Regions from separate parts of the Homo sapiens genome. Here region 2 is linked to region 1. Evidence: fine-mapped expression QTL. Tissue or cell type: whole blood. Region 1 holds a variant in brackets; the other region holds the start of a gene. All regions are shown on one strand. Distances are between the middles of the regions.

Region 1 (8,000 bases):
GCCAGAAGGCTTGGCTTAGTCTTTTATTCTTATTCTTAGCTAACATATACATAGCACCTATTATGTACAGGTGCTACCACATGCTTTACTTATAGTAACTTATTAATCCCAACAGCCTTCTGAGGAGGCACTGTTGTTATCTCTGTTTTACAAATGGTTTCGGAAACAGATTCATATGTTGTAGTAACTTGCCAAGCTCAAACCTCTACCATCTGGCTCTAGAATCCATATAATTAAAAATTGTACTACATGTATCTGTTAACATATGGCAGAAGCCCAATTCAGCATCAGTTCTAACTCATGCAGCATGATTCTTTTGTGTGTGTGTGTGTGTGCGCGTGTGTGTGTGTTTTAGCGATTCTGATATAGAGTCACTCTTTAACTGATGATTTTAGTTGTCTTGTGACTTATAGTCCTCTTAGCTTTCTTGAGGTTTGGAATTGTTAGACCTGCAGATTTAGAAATAACATTTTTGAAATAATGTTTTGATCTCATCACCTTTCTTAAATTAATTTCTGTATTTTAAAGCCAAGCACATTAACTGTAAAATAATAGGTACTAATTGTTAATCTTTTCTTGACAATGGTTATAACATGTTATTGGGTGCAACGCCCTCAAGTTAAAAGTACACCACAATATTTTTCTTCCTGGGAACTTATGGCCCTTCATTTAGTTTTATTTTTAATAAATTTTTAATTTTAGAATAGTTTTAGATTTACACAAAGTTGCAAAAATAGTACAGAAAGTTTCCATGTACCCTGCACCCAGTTTTTCCTAACATTAACATTTTACATTATTATGGTACATTTGTCACAACTAATGAACTAATATTAATATGTTATTAAACTCCATCCTTTTTTGGGATTTTGTTAGTTTTTCCCTAGTATCTCTTTTCTGATCTAAGATTTCATCTGGGATATCACATACAGCCCTTTTTTTAAAAAATTTTTAATTAATTAATTAATTAATTTTTTGTATTTTTAGTAGAGACAGAGTTCCGCCATGTTGGTCAGCCTGGTCTTGAACTCGCGACCTCAGGTGATCCGCCTGCCTTGGCCTCCCATAGTGTCGGGATTACAGGCATGAGCCACTGCACCCGGCGTACAGCCCTTTATTATATGTATAAAGTTTTGAATAGCCCTAAATATGTTGCATTGTAGTTGTTTGCATTAGTCTTTGTATATAAACCCTCCTTTTTTTTTTTTTTTTTTTTGACATAGCCTCGCACTGTTGTCCAGGCTGGCGTGCAGTGGCGCGATCTTGGCTCACTGCAACCTCCATCTCCCAGGTTCAAGCAATTCTCCTGCCTCATCCTCCCGAGTAGTTGGGATTACAGGCGCCCACCACCACGCCCAGATAATTTTTTTTTTTTTTTGAGATGGAGTCTTGCTCTGTCGCCCGGGCTGGAGTGCAGTGGCACGATCTTGGCTCACTGCAAGCTCCACCTCCCGGGTTCACGCCATTCTCCTGCCTCAGCCTCCCAGGTAGCTGGGACTACAGGTGCCTGCCACCACTCTCGGCTAATTTTTTTGTATTTTTTTTAGTAGAGACGGGGTTTCACTGTGTTAGCCAGGATGGTCTTGATCTCCTGACCTCGTGATCCACCTGCCTCGACCTCCCAAAGTGATGGGATTACAGACGTGAGCCACCGTGCCTGGCCAATTTTTGTATTTTTAGTAGAGACGGGGTTTCACCATGTTGGCCAGGCTGGTGTTGAACTCCTGACCTCGTGATCTGCCCGCCTCCGCCTCCCAAAGTGCTGGGATTACAGGCATGAGCCACTGTGCCCGGCCCAAGCCCTTCTTAAAGTTGAATCATTGATCTGGGATGCTAATGACTTTTAAAAACTTGATTGATTTGAAAATAATGTAAATTCATAAACTTTTATGAATTTTTATATTATTTTATTTTATAAAATAATATAATTTCATAAACTTTTCCCCCTCCCATATGGATATCAACTGAGATCAAACCTGTGTGGGAAACCAGGTAACTATCTTAAAACTGTACAACTGCTGGCCGAGGCAGGCGGGTCACAAGGTCAGGAGATCGAGACCATCCTGGCTAACACAGTGAAACCCCGTCTCTACTAAAAATACAAAAAATTAGCCGGGCATGGTGGCAGGCACCTGTAGTATCAGCTACTTGGGAGGCTGAGGTAGGAGAATGGTGTGAACCTGAGAGGCAGAACTTGCAGTGAGCTGAGATCACGCCACTGCACTCCAGCCTGGGCGACAGAGCGAGAGTCCGTCTCAAAAAAAAAACAAACAAAACAACAACAACAAAAAAAACTGTACCACTGCTGCCATCATTATAATTTGAAACTAATACAAGTTGGTGAAAGCTGATTAAACTTCCTTGCTTCATGCCTTGTCAGCCCAATCAACTGTATTTCAACATAGTGGTGTAACATATTTTCTTTTACTCATGTACTTGATAGAAGGAGGGTGTTGATGTGTGATATTATCAACAGTGTCTCTGATCTGTATTCTTCCTTACAATTGTCAGCTGCTCACAGGAACAGCAGAACAGTGTTTTTGTAGATTCTGATTCATTGAGTGTTGGTGCTGATGAGACCTTTGGGATTATTTAGTTAAAATTCTTTTATTTTTAATCTCCGTGACATGAGTTTACCTATATAACAAAACTTCACATGTACCCCTGAACCTAAAATAGAAGTTAAAAAATTAAAGTTAAAAAATAATCTTTTGGCTGGGTGCGGTGGCTCACGCCTGTAATCCCAGCACTTTGGGAGGCCAAGGCAGGCGGATCACGAGGTCAAGAGATCGAGACCATCCTGGCCAACATGGTGAAACCTCGTTTCTACTAAAAATACAAAAATTAGCTGGGCATGGTGGCGCGTGCCTGTAGTCCCAGCTATTTGGGGGGCTGAGGCAGGAGAATCGCTTGAACCCAGGAGGTGGAGGTTGCAGTGAGCTGAGAACGTGCCACTGCACTCCAGCCTGGGCGACAGAGCGAGATTCCGTCTCAAAAAAAAAAAAAAAAACTTTTATTTTGGCATCTGAGAAAACCAAAGCCTAGAGAAGTAAAGCGGCTTTTACTAATTGTCATGTGCTCTTTTCATTTAGTCATCACAGTGACAGTCTCAGAAGAGCTTCTCTCCAGTGGCATAGGTGGGCACCCAGTTCTCAGTAGTAGTAGGTCTTATTAAAGACAAACAGTGGAAGGTAGCGTTGGAAACAATTTTGAAGCAGCTTTACTTTAATTAAATGATCATTCTTTTTGATAAAAAGAAAAAGGAGAATCTCCTTAAGGTTGCAATGTTTGTAAATACCTTGTCCCCTCTGTGAGATTTTACATTTGAAGTTGTTTCTTATAATTGTTTTATATATGGTATAGTCTTTTTTTTTTTTCCTGTCAGGGTCAGATTTTCTATCACAGTACTTTTTGTTAGAAAATAAAATATGACTTGGGTACCAATTAGAAGGACTTTTGTTTAGTTCTCATCTCCTCAAAAAGGTTAAGTTTAAGTATTTAGTTAAAACATGTTAATGAGTTTCTTTGTGAAATGTTTTTGTTTTAGTTACTTACACATTGGGCATGCAAAAGCTGCTCTTCTGAACCAGCACTACCAGGTTAACTTTAAAGGGAAACTGATCATGAGATTTGATGACACAAATCCTGAAAAAGAAAAGGAAGATTTTGAGAAGGTAATTAAAAGTGTAGTGATGACCCTTTGCCAGAAAAGTGAATTAAAGTTACAGGATTACCTAATACCTTCATGGTATGAAAATAAATTTTGTTCTCATAGCTGCTTTTTTCCCTATCTATATATTCCATATCTGAGACCTAAGCCAAGAAATGTCGAGCTCCCATACCAAAAAACTTAAGAGTTATTTTTCCTTTCCCCAGTTATAGAGTTTACCTGAATGATATGTTTTCCTATAATACCAATTTATTAAATGGTCACTGGAGGCAGGTTTTTTGGTCATATAATCTTAAGTTTATGAATGAAATAAACACTAAGTAGGTATTGGAAAATGTGAAGGTTTCCTA[G/A]CCTCTTATCTTTATTCAGAAGTATGGCAGTGTATTCAAAGAGAGGGCAAATGATTGTCAGTTCTCCCAGTAATGACCAGCTTTTCCAAAGTAAATGGAAAACTCCATCGTGAGATCAGCTTTCTCAGCTGGAAATTTGGAGGCTAATATAATGAGTATCTATCTGTTTTTTCTTTTTTGATCTAATATCATGTAACTTCCACAACCATTTTCAGGCTAAATAAGACTGATGGTCTATGTTACATTTGCTTAAATGCAGTATCAAGGGTTGAAAATGCACGAAAAAATGCAAAAGATATACTGATGGTTATTTTGGTTTCTTACTACAGGTTATCTTGGAAGATGTTGCAATGTTGCATATCAAACCAGATCAATTTACTTATACTTCGGATCATTTTGAAACTATAATGAAGTATGCAGAGAAGCTAATTCAAGAAGGGAAGGCTTATGTGGATGATACTCCTGCTGAACAGATGAAAGCAGAACGTGAGCAGAGGATAGACTCTAAACATAGAAAAAACCGTAAGCCACATTGTTTTATATTTTAATTGATATTCTTATATTGTGCTTCTTTAGTAGAACGTGATTTCTTTTTTGTGAAAGCTGCTAGTTTTTTTGTTTGTTTGTTTGTTTTGAGAAGGAGTCTCGCTCTGTTGCCTGGGCTGGAGTACAATGGCGCGATCTCGGCTCACTGCAACCTCCGCCTCCCAGGTTCAAGTGATTCTTCTGCCTCAGCCTCCCAAGTAGCTGGGATGACAGGCGTGCACCACCACACCTTGCTAATTTTTGTATTTTTAGTAGAGACGGGGTTTCACCATATTGGCCAAGCTGGTCTCGAATTCCTGACCTTGTGATCTGCCTGCCTTGGCCTCCCAAAGTGCCGGGATTACAGGCATGAGCCACCGTATCTGGCAAAAGCTGCTAGTTTAAATACATTTGGGTATATGACTCATTTGTCTTAGAAATCTTTTTTCTTCCTCTATCTTTATGTTCTTGTTATTTTATTAACATCACAACTGCATGTGAATATGCCCTTAGTATCTCACTTATTATGTGTAGTCTTTTGCATTGTATTCATTCAATTTGAAGGATTCCTTCTGCAACATTTTACAGTTTTCTTACTTTAAATACTTAGCCTTTCTATAATACAATGTTTGATGATAATGTTGTCACCCAAGTCTTCCTTTTGGCATGTGGGTAAATATGAATATAATATATAGTACAAGCTCAGTACTAACCTGTATCTCTGAAATATCACTTGACTGAAGAGCATATCTTTCTTATTCATGGCTTCTCTCCTGAACTTCTAAATTGGGTGATTTTCATTCTGTAATTATGTTGTCAGAACTTCACTATAATTAAACCTGGAGTGCCACATTTGGGAAGTATTAGTAAATTAAAATAGTTATAATGAGTCTTTTTTATTTTGAAAAGGTTTTCTACATTTTCAGAGGTGGCTAACCAATGGACTTTTAGACCTATCTTGATTATTTGAGGGCAAGTGTCTTACATTTCTAGTAGCTTCCACAGAAAATTATTGTTTAACAGTTTGTATGCATACAGGGCAGGTTTTTGCTAGATATTGTGATATAGAGGGAGCCATAGCCACTTGGAATGTAGAGTCCTTTTTTCTGGTATTAAACTCTTTTCTTTCCTGTGTCACTGTTTTCTATCACCTCTTATTTTCTTGGATCCAAGAGTATCCTGCTTCTCATTGGGATGATGAAGGGGCTTTCAGGGAGCCCATGAGCTCAGACTCTCAACCTGAGCTGTGTTCTTTAGATAGGCACGGTCTGTAGTGCCAATGCCTGTGGGACCTTAGGGCCGGACCAAACCATTCTGTCCCTTAGGCATGAGGTGGCAAAATAAGAATGCTTCTGCTTTAAAGGCAGAATGTTAAATTTCAGGGAGATGAGAAGAGAAGGGGCTGGCCCGTTGTGCCATGATGGGAAGGGAAACACTAGGTGAGCGGAGCCTTCAGGCCTTGTACTTTTTCTTATGCTTAATTGATACCACATGAGTGGAATGTATTGATGTTACCTTTTCTAAAACGTATTTGTATTTGCTAAATGTATTGTGAAACTTCTTTAATTAAAAAATGACGCATTTGCTCTTGGTACTGGATACTGGAAATATTACAGTGTTTTTAAACTAACACAGGGTGGTTATAAAACAAGAACATGAAAATTTATATCAAATTATAGCACTATGAGAATAATTTGAATTTAACCAGATTAGTGAACCGTAATGTAATTATCATTTTATAGCTATTGAGAAGAATCTACAAATGTGGGAAGAAATGAAAAAAGGGAGCCAGTTTGGTCAGTCCTGTTGTTTGCGAGCAAAAATTGACATGAGTAGTAACAATGGATGCATGAGAGATCCAACCCTTTATCGCTGCAAAATTCAACCACATCCAAGAACTGGAAATAAATACAAGTAAGTATATCTCCTTCAATATGCTAGGTAGCCATCTGTGCTTTTGTTTTGATCTTCTTTAAACATGGAGTACAAGCAAAATAGTCAAGAAACCTGGCCTTTTGTTCATCCATGGGTTCACTGGCTGGTGGCCTTCTGTAAAGGCATGTAGCCTTTCACGGGCCGTTTACTCACCTGTCAATTAAGGTTCTACCACATTATTTCTAAGATCACTTCCATCTATGAAAGTCCTGAGTCTGCCTAGAGTTGCTTTTTTTGTATTGATTAGGTATACTGTGATGTACATCTTTAGGTGAAGATACTTTGCTTCCTGTAATAAACTTTGAGTCTACTTTGCACAAATTGATTCCTAAAAGTAATAGTATTGAAAACTTCCAGAAATATGAACAATACAGGAGAGTAACATGTGTTTAGATTAGTTTTCAATGTGGATTTGTAGGTTAACGAATCTTTGTTTTAAATGGACCTTTTCCAAAAAAAAAAACCCTACTTTATAAAATAAATCATAAAAAATATTTTTTAATACTTTGAAGAAGCGTACTACACATAAATGCTGAATTAAAATTTCTGAAGAGAATGGTAAATGTAAATGATTACTTGGTTAGCTGATGTGACTTACTTTAAACTCATGGGTGCTGACATGTCTGTCCATATATAGACAAATACACATGTGATTATATGTGCATACATATCATTTTTCTCAGGATTACTCCTTGTTTTACTAAGCAAATCCTTTCAATACATTTGGAAAAGTGACTTTGGATACACATTTTCAGTGTCAAATAATTGCAAAGCATAATGCAGTAGCATCTTAATCAAGTTGTATCTTAAAAGTTAGAATGTATAATGGCTGGGCACAGTGGCTCATGCCTGTAATGCCAACACTTTGGGAGTCTGAGGCAGGAAGCTCTCTTGAGGCTAGGAGTTTGAAACCAGCGTGGGAAACATAGCAAGAACCTGTCTCTACCAAAAAATAAATTAAAAAAAAAAACTAGCCAGGTATGGTGGCACGCTTCAGTAGTTCTAGCTGCTTGGAAGACTGAGGCAAGAAGATTGCTTCAGTCCAGGAGTTCAAGGTTACAGTGAGTTGTGATCATGCCACTTCACTCCAGCCTGAGCAACAGAGTGAAACCCTGTCTCTAGACAAACAAAAAGGAAAGCATTGGTTGGGTGTAGTGGCTCATGCCTGTAATACCAGCACTTTGGGAGGCCTTGGTGGGTGGATCACTTGAGGCCAGGAGTTTGAGACCAGCCTGGCCAACATAGTGAAACCCCATCTCTACTTTAAAACAAATACAAAAATTAGCGGGGCATGGTGGCGCATGCCTGTAATCCCATCTATACCTGGGAGGCTGAGAATCACTTGAACCCAGGAGGCGGAGGTTGCACTGAGCTGAGATCGCACCGGTGCACTCTAGCCTGGGTAAAAGAGCGAGACTGTCTCCAAAAAAAAAGAAAGAAAGCATAATGCACTAATATATATATATATATATATATATATATATATATATATATATATATAAATTCAAATTGATACTGCATGT
Region 2 (9,202 bases), 22 kb before region 1:
CTAATTTTTTTTTTTTCTTTGTGGAGACAGGGCCTTGCTATGTTACCTAGGCTGATCTCAAACTTCTGGCCTCAAGTGATCCTCCCACCTCGGTTTCCCACAGTGCTAGGATTACAGGTGTAATTACAGGCATACAGGATTACAGGTATATTACTGTGCCCAGCCAAATATGCCATCTTTTAGCCAAAGCTTTCCTTTACCATTCTGTCTTTCCTTCCTCACTCAACATGGATAATCATCTTCCATCTTCTGAGCTATCTTTGTACTTTCTGCAAAGTTTATTATTTTTACTCTCATTTCAATTTTTTTTTTTTTTTAGACAGAGTCTCACATCTCACTCTGTCACCCAGGCTGGAGTGTAGTGATGCGATATCGGCTCACTGCAACCTCTGCCTCCTGGGCTCAAGCAATTCTCCTGCCTCAGCCTCCAGAGTAGCTGGGATTACAGGCATGTGCCACCAAGCCCAGCTAATTTTTGTATTTTTTGTAGAGATGGGGTTTCACCATATTAGCCAGGCTGGTCTCAAACTCCTGACCTCAAGTGACCCACCCGCCTCAGCCTTCCAAAGTGCTGGGATTACAGGTGTGAGTTACTGCACCCCGGCCCCAAAATGTTTTTAATATGAACATATTTCTATTGCTACATATATCTCACTGTGTAGCAATTTTTATTTACCTTGTGTTTTTGTTTTGTTTTGTTTTGTTTTTTAGACACAGTCTTGCTCTGTTGCCCAGGCTGGAGTGCAGTGGCGCAATCTCAGCTCACTGCAACCTCCACCTCCTGAGTTCAAGCGATTCTCCTGCCTCAGCCTCCCCAGTAGCTGGAATTACAGGTGTGTGCCACCATGCCCGCCAGGCTAATTTTTCTATTTTTAGTAGAGACAGGATTTCACCATGTTGGCCAGGCTGGTCTCCAACTCCCAACCTCAGGTGATCCACCCACCTCGGCCTCCCAAAGTCTGTAGCCTTCTTGGTCAGGCACGGTGGCTCATGCCTGTAATCCCACTACTTTGAGCAGTTGAGGGAGGAGTATTGCTTGAGTCCAGGAGTTCAAGACCAACCTGGGCAACACAGACCCCATACCTACAGAAAATAAAAAATTAGCTAGGCATGGTGAGCATGCCTGTAGTTCTAGCTACTTGGGGGGCTGAGGTGGGAAGATCGCTTGAGCCCAGGAGATTGAGACTGCAGTGAGCTATAATCGTGCCACTGGACTACAGCCTGCTCTGTCTAAAAAAAAAAAAAAAAAAGTTTGGGCGTGGTGGTTCACACCTGTAATCCCAGCACAGAATCCCAGCACTTTGGGAGGCTGAGGCAGGTAGAACACCTGAGGTTGGGAGTTTGAGACCAGCCTGGGCAACATGGTGAAATCCCGTCTCTACTAAAAATACAAAAATTAGCTGGGCATGGTGGCACACACCTGTAATCCCAGCTACTCAGGAGGCAAAGGCAAGAGAATTGCTTGAACCAGGGAGGCGGAGGTTGCAGTGAGCCCAGATCATGCCAGTGCACTCTAGCCTGGGCAACAAAATGAGACTCTATCTCAAAAAAAAAAAAAAGGCTTCTTGAGGACAGGGACTTCACCTTTCATCTCTGTATCTCCTGTTTATGTACACAATAATAAGGAGTGAAAATCCAATACCCATTCTTGATTTTAAAAAGAATCCAGGGCTGGGCACGGTGGCTCAGGCCTGTAATCCCAGCACTTTGGAGGCCGAGGCGGGCAGACCACCTCAGGTCAGGAGTTCGAGATAAGCCTAGCCAACATGATGAAACCCCATCTCTGCTAAAAATACAAAAATTAGCTGGGCGTGGTGGCAGGTGCCTGTAATCCCAGCTACTTTGGAGGCTGAGGCAGGAGAATCACTTGAACCCAGGTGTCGGAGGCTACAGTGAGCCAATATCATGCCGTTGCACTCTAGCCTGGGCAACGAGAGCGAAACTCTGTCTCAAAAAGAAAAAAAAAAACCCTGTTAACCTAAGAATATATAAGAAACCAGCGGCAAACACTATTCTTTTTTTATTTTTATTTTCAGGGAAAGGGTCTTGTTCTGTCATCCAGGCTATAGTGCGGTGGCGCGATCATAGCTCACTGTACCTTCAAACTCCTGGTCTCAGGTGATCCTCCCATCTGGGCCTGCCAAAGTGCTGACATTACCAGCAAGAGCCATTGCAGCCAACCTAGCAGACACTATTCTTTTTTTTTTTTTTTTGAGACAAAGTTTTGCTCTTATTGCCCAGGCTGGAGTGCAATGGTGCCATCTAGGCTCACTGCAACCTCTGCCTCCTGGGTTCCAGTGATTCTCCTGCCTCAGACTGCCAAGTAGCTGGGACTACAGGCATGCACCACTACTCCAGGCTAATTTTGTATTTTTAGTAAAATGACGCGGTTTCACCATATTCACCAGGCTAGTCTCGAACTCCGGACCTCAGGTGTTCTGCCTACCTCAGCCTCCCAAAGTGTTGGGATTACAGGTATGAGCCATTACACCTGGCTTACAGACACTATTCTTTAACATTTTTTTTTTTGAGACGGACTTTTTGCTCTTGTTGCCCCGGGCTGGAGTACAGTGGCATGATCTCTGCTCACTGCAACCTCCAGCTCCCAGGTTCATGCGATTCTCCTGCCTCAGCCTCCTGAGTAGCTGGGATTACAGGCATGCACCACCACGCCCAGCTAATTTTGTATTTTTAGTAGAGACAGGGTTTCACCATGTTGATCAGGCTGGTCTCGAAGTCCTCTACTTAGGTGATCCACCCACCTCGGCCTCCCAAGTGCTGGGATTACGGGTGCGAGCCACCGTGCCCGGCCACAGACACTATTCTTGATAATGCAACATTAGCGGCATTCCCACTAAAGTCAGGAACAAAGCAAATACTCTCTTATTCGACACTATTATTGCTCCCATTTAACATCATTCTGGAAGTTCTAGCCAATGAAAGAGATAAGATATAGGTCATGTAAATTTTGGATAGGAAGAAAATGATATTTACCTAGAAAATCCAACATAACTAAAAAATGATTGGAACTAGTAAAAGCATCCAACAAGATGGTAACTCTAAGACCTAAGACTTTCTGCTATAAGTCCCACTATCCTGAAAGTAGGCTTCTTTTTTTTTTTTTTTTTTTTTATTGAGATGAAGTTTTGCTCCTGTTACCCAGGCTGGAGTGCAATGGCGTGATGTCAGCTCACCGAAACCTCTGCCTCCCAGGTTCAAGCGATTCTCTGGCGTCAGCCTCCCGAGTAGCTGGGATTACAGGCATGCACCACCACACCCAGCTATTTTTTTGTATTTTTACTAGAGATGGGGTTTCTCCATGTTGGCTTGGCTGGTCTCAAACTCTCGACCTTAGGTGATCCGCCCGCCTCAGCTTCCCAAAGTGCTGGGATTACAGGCATGAGCCACCGCGCCTGGCCTCAAGTCTCATGGGAGATGTAATCTAAGGGGCCCTCCCTAATGAAAACAAGGATGTCTTGGGGAGGTTAAGAAAAAGTGTAGGCGAGGATGTGGTTGAGATGGTTCTTGGAATCCATCCCGGGTCCCCGTACTTTAACACCAGCCCTTGAAATATGGGTGCAGCTCACACACACGAATGTGTGTATACACCTTGGAGTATCTCTGGAGCTCATGCATGCACGTCCGTCACAAAGGATTTGAAAGGGAGAATCAGATGAGACGCTGAAAAAAACACCTGTGGACTCCATGATTGGGGGCGGCATCGGAGGGTTTTTTTGTTTTGTTTTTTAGATCAGGTCTCTCCCTGTGTCGGCCAGGCTGGAGGGTAGTGGCTACTCACAGGCAAGTCCACGGCGAGGCCACTACAGCCTCATCTTCCTGGGCTCAGGCGATCCTGCCTCAGCCTTCTTAATAGCTGAGACTACAGGAGCGCGCCACTGCGCCTATCTGCAGTGATTTTTTGTTTGTTTTGAAACGGGGTCTCAGTCTGTCGCCCAGGCTGGAGTGCAGTGCCGCGATCTCGGCTCACCGCAACCTCCTCCTCCCGGGTTCAAGCGATTCTCCTGCCTCAGCTCCCCAAGTAGCTAGGATTAAAGGTGCGCGCTACCATTCCCGGCTAATTTTTGTACTTTTAGTAGAGACCCCCGTCTCTACAGTTTCACCATGTTGGTGAAGCTGGTCTCCAACTCCTGACCTCGAGATCCGCTCGCCTCCGGCCTCCCAAAGTGCTGGGATTACAGGCCTGAGCCACCGCGCCCGGCCTCTGCTGTGATTTTTTTTTTTTTTCTTTTCGAGAAGGAGTCTCACTCTGTCGCCCAGGCTGGATGCAGTAGCACGATCTCGGCTCACTGCAACCTCCACCTCCCAGGTTCAAGCGATTCTCCTGCCTCAGCCTCCCAAGTAGCTGGGATTACAGGGGCCCACCACCATGCCAGGCTAATTTTTGTATTTTTAGTAGAGATGGGGTTTCACCATGCTGGCCAGACTGGTCTCGAACTCCTGACCTCAGGTGATCCGCCCGCCTACACCTTCTAAAGTGCTGAGATTACAGGCGTGAGCCACCACGCCCGGCCTGCAGTGATTTTTAAAGAGTCTTTTATATTTCCTTTAACCATTATTTTCAACACGCAAATAACTCTTGAAAATACGTTCTTGTTTTGGAAAAAAAAAAACGGGGGGGAATGTATAAAATAAACAACGAGAAAAACTTCTCCCATTCCCAACGTAATCATGGCTATCGTGTGTATGCTTCCAGGACTTTTCTTTTTACATAAAGACAGTGCATGCTTTTGTTTCGTGCTTCACATAAACGCCTATCCCATCTTAAAGATGGTTTTACAACCTGCTGTTTTACGACCTGCTGACTTGACGAAGTGTCGTAAAGTCCCGTCCACTTCAGCGTCTTTCCCACCGCAGCACGAAAGGCCACGCAGGCCGTTCTAACCCTGGCGGCCAAGAGGAGGGGTAGCAGGCTCTGGAACCTGCGGGCGGGGACGAAGACGGCGCGCGACGATGTCGCACCGCGGCGTGCGCGGTGTCGGCAGTAGCTGCGGCGCAGGGGCGGAGCGAAGGCTGCGGCGGCGTCGGGTACGCGCACACGTTGCATCTTCTTCCTTTCGCGGGGTCCTCCGTAGTTCTGGCACGAGCCAGGCGTACTGACAGGTGGACCAGCGGACTGGTGGAGATGGCGACGCTCTCTCTGACCGTGAATTCAGGAGACCCTCCGCTAGGTAAGGGGCCGAGACCAATGACCTGTGTGGGTTGCATCAGCCAGGGAGGGTGCAGGGCGTGGAAGGTCGCTGCGCCCCGGCTTTGCGCAGTGGTGGTCACCATCTGGGATGTTGGACCTGCCCCTCGCCCCAGAATTGTACGTGGAGGAGGCTCCGCACCCCTCGCCCCGTGTCCCCGGCAGGTGCATCTGCTCCTGAAGATGGTTTTCCCGGGCATGGAGGGAGGCGCAGTGTGAGCCCGGGCTAGACAACACGAGACTCCGCTTCGGATCTTTTTCTCAGAGGGATGAACTCCCAGTCAACTCACCTCTCCCTTTTTCCCCCGGAGAGCGAGAGTTGCTCGTGGAAATAAGATTTTAAAACTTAAAATCCAATAGTCGTCGCTTCTCTTTTAGCATTTTTCCCCCAACTCCTTTTCTTACCTCCTTTCCTGTCCTGTCCCTCCTCTCAGGAGAAATCCTCAGTTCACTTGAGTCAAATTTTCCTTACGTTTTATCGAGTTCAGAAGAAATAACCCAGACGAGCATATTAGCATTTAGGATTTCAACTGAGGCTGCATTTATTTTTAATTAAATGTGGTAGGGTAATTGGGGAAAACACCCAGGTACACTGTAGACTGATGCGGTTGCTTTTACTGCACCCTGTGGATGTGTAGTAAATTTCAGAGTAAACATTGGATCTGTCACCTTACTGACACATCTTAAGTTCTGTTTGGAATTATTTTTTCGACATGACCAAGATTATTGTTGGTAGATTGCTTAGAATTTCTGCTTTTTCATTACTTTGGGAAATTACACAGAAGAATTTAAGTAGTTTGCCGATTTTTTTTTTTCTTTTGAGAGTCAGGGTCTTGCTCTATCGTCCAGGCTGGAGTGCAGTGGCGCTTTCAAGGCTCACTGCAGCATCGAACTTCCGGGCTCAGATGATCCTCCCACCTCAGCCTCCTTAGTAGCTGGGACTACAGGCGCGTGCCACCATGCCTGGCTAATTTTGTGTTTGTGTCTTTTTTGGAAAGATGGCGTTTCACTGTGTTGCCCAGGCAGGTCTCAAACTCCTGGGCTCAAGCCATCCTGACTTGGCCTCCCAAAGTACTAGGATTACAGGCGTGAGCCACAGTACCCAGCCTGACCTAATATTTGTTAATGCATATGTATGATAATACACACACAGTACTTTCTAATGTTGAAGAAGCCCATACCTTTATATACAGTTGACCACGTGGGGCTGATGAAATTATTCATTATATTCTCAACTTTGGTGATGTTTTAAGGTTGTTGAACAAAAACACAACTTAATAGCCATTTTAAACATTTAAAAGATGGTAATGTTTTGGCATATTGGTTGCAGTAATGGACTAACCGCACAACAAATCAATGAACTCTAAAAGGAATGGGTTTGATTCCTGAGCTGGAAAGGCATTAGAGTGCCTTCATGATTGAGAGCAAAGACATTTGGTTTCTGCAGACCTGAGTCCAATCCTGGCTGCCACTTACTAGTTGTGAAACCTTGACAAGTTCCTTATTTAGCTTCTCCCATAGTTTCCTTGTTTTAAGAAAGGGAGAATAATGTCTTCCAGATAGGATTGGTTGCCAGAGTTAAGTGAGACTATAGTTAAAGCTCCTGATACTGTTTTTTTTTTTTTTTTTTTTTTTTTTTTTTTTGGAGACCGAGCTCATTGCAACCTCTGCCTCCCAGGATCAAGCAATTCTTGTTCTCAGCCACACGAGTAGTTGCGCTTAGAGGTGCGCACCACCATGCCCGCCTAATTTTTGTATTTTTTAGTAGACACAGCATTTTGCCATGTTGGCCAGGCTGGTCTCAAACTCCTGACCTCAAGCAGTCCGCCCGCCTTGGCCTCCCAAAGTGCCAGGACCACAGGTGTGAGCCACCATGCCCAGCCTCCTGATACATTTTTTGTTACTTAGAAAATCACCCTGAAGGTGGCCTGTTTCTGTAGTGTATTACAGAACTCAGAATTCTGCCAGTATTCTGTGAAACTCTTGTCATTTTGAACTGTATGCCAGTTATCAAATATATCATTTTTCTAATTGCTCCTCTCCCTTTTTAATTTTTGATTTAATTATTCCCAGTTTAATTCAATTACATTTTATCTTTAAGTAATATAATTAGATGAAACATTTTAAAATAATAGTTGCATTGCTAGAATTTTCCTATTTTGTATGCATTCATCATGTTATATATTTAATGTTAATTTCAAACTTAAAATAAAGACCTTTTTCCCCCATACCACCCAAGAGCATACTGTAGATATGAGGCTTCAGTATCTCAGCATAACTCCAGTGTACATCCCCAACAAACTTGGAAACTCCAGGTGATCTCACACAAGCACCCAAATCAGGAAATACACTTGGATACAATGCTTCCATCTAATGCACAGACCCCATCCTTGTTCTATCATTATTTGTTACAACCAGACCCTCCATAGTGTTGAGATCAAAATCCCGTATTATGCTTTGTTTGCATCTGATTGTCACCTCTCTCCAGTTTCTTTCAGTCTGGAATGGTTTCCTAGTCTTCCCTTGGCTTTCATAGCTTTGACCTTTCTGAAGATAACAGGCCACTTAACTTGAAGAATATCCTCTGTTTAAGTTGTCTGATATTTCCTGGTGTCTAGATTCAGGCTCTTTGTTTTTGGCAGGAATAGCGTAGTTATTCCTTGTTCTTCATTGCAGCCCATCAGTTGGTGCATGAATTTAATTTTCCCATTACTGATTATTCTAACCTTAATTTTAATGGGCAGATGCATTGGAATCATGTAAATGTTCCACTTTGCATCAGATCTTCACCCACTAGTTTCAGTATCCATTGATACTTCCTGCCTAACTTGATTTTTATGATTTTATGATGTTTGCGAGATAGTGACTTTCCCATTCTACCATTCCTTCTGTATGTATTAGTTGGCATTTTTCTGTGAGGAGAGCTTTCTCTTTTTCCCATTTAAAAAAATCATAGCAAAAATACTCAAGAAGTTACAATTTGTATTATTTTCATTTTCTATTTAAAATTATTTTGTTTTTAAAAATTAGTTTTATTGAATTATAACTTGTATACAATTGTTCACCAATTTTAAGTGATTGACAAATGTGTACAATGTGACAAATGTGACAAGTGTGTAATCTACACCACAGTCATCATGTAGAGTATTTCCATTACTTCAGAAAGTCCTCTCACGCCCCTTTGCAGTCATTCCTTTCCCTACTCCTAGCACCTAATAGCGACTCATCTTCTTTTTGTCACTTTTTTGCTTTTTCTATAATTTCATATACATTGAATCATATTATATATATTCTTATATTCTCATATGTGCCTAGGATAATACTTCTGAAATTCATATATCTTTTTGTCTATGACAGTAGTTTACTTTTGTTGTTGTTGATGTTGTTTTTTGTTTGTTTGTTTTTTGAGATGGAGTCTCACCCTGTCACCAGGCTGGAGTGCAGTGGTGCGATCTTGGCTCACTGAAACCTCTGCCTCCCAGTTTCATGTGATCCTCCTGCCTCAGCCTCCCGAGTAGCTGGGACTATAGGCGCATGCCACCACGCCCAGCTAATTTTTTGTATTTTTAGTAGAGACGGAGTTTCACCATGTTGTCCAGGATGGTCTCGATCTCTTGACCTCATGATCCGCCCCCCTCAGCCTCCCAAAGTGCTGGGATTACAGGCATGAGCCACCACGCCCGGCCAGTAGTTCATTTTTTTATTTGCTGGATAAAATTTCATTGTATGGGTGTGCTAAAATTGATCTCATTTATTTCGATGTCATTACCCTGATTTGCCAGTGGAAGCCCCTCCAACCTGGACTCTGTCCTTTCTTTCTTTTTTCTTTTTTTTTTTTTGGGAGATGGGGTTTCATTCTTGTTGCTCAGGCTGGACTGCAGTGGTACGATCTTGGCTCACTGCAAACCTCCACCTCCCAGGTTCGAGCAATTCTCCTGCCTCAGCCTCCCAAGTAGCTGGGACTACAGGCACATGCCACCACGCCTGGCTAATTTT

The links. PIP is the estimated chance that this variant, and not a neighbour inherited with it, causes the effect.
Region 2: EPRS1 starts here. The variant in region 1 is fine-mapped to the expression of EPRS1 in whole blood (INTERVAL, PIP above 0.99). The same link has a PIP of 0.9 or more in blood mononuclear cells.

Annotation. Positions count from the first base shown.
Region 1 is chr1:220,020,803-220,028,802 of GRCh38, reverse strand. It overlaps EPRS1 (glutamyl-prolyl-tRNA synthetase 1), which reads left to right. Exons shown (of 32, transcript NM_004446.3): 7 at 3,545-3,671; 8 at 4,347-4,539; 9 at 6,285-6,456. Among named protein-coding and RNA genes, the nearest start is that of EPRS1, 22 kb to the left of the region's middle. RefSeq lists an enhancer at 1,571-2,072. The variant G/A (reference allele first, on the strand shown) is at 4,018.
Region 2 is chr1:220,042,330-220,051,531 of GRCh38, reverse strand. EPRS1 (glutamyl-prolyl-tRNA synthetase 1) reads left to right here and starts at 5,027. Exons shown (of 32, transcript NM_004446.3): 1 at 5,027-5,189. The coding sequence starts at 5,144. RefSeq lists enhancers at 4,816-4,885, 4,946-5,275, 5,317-5,874.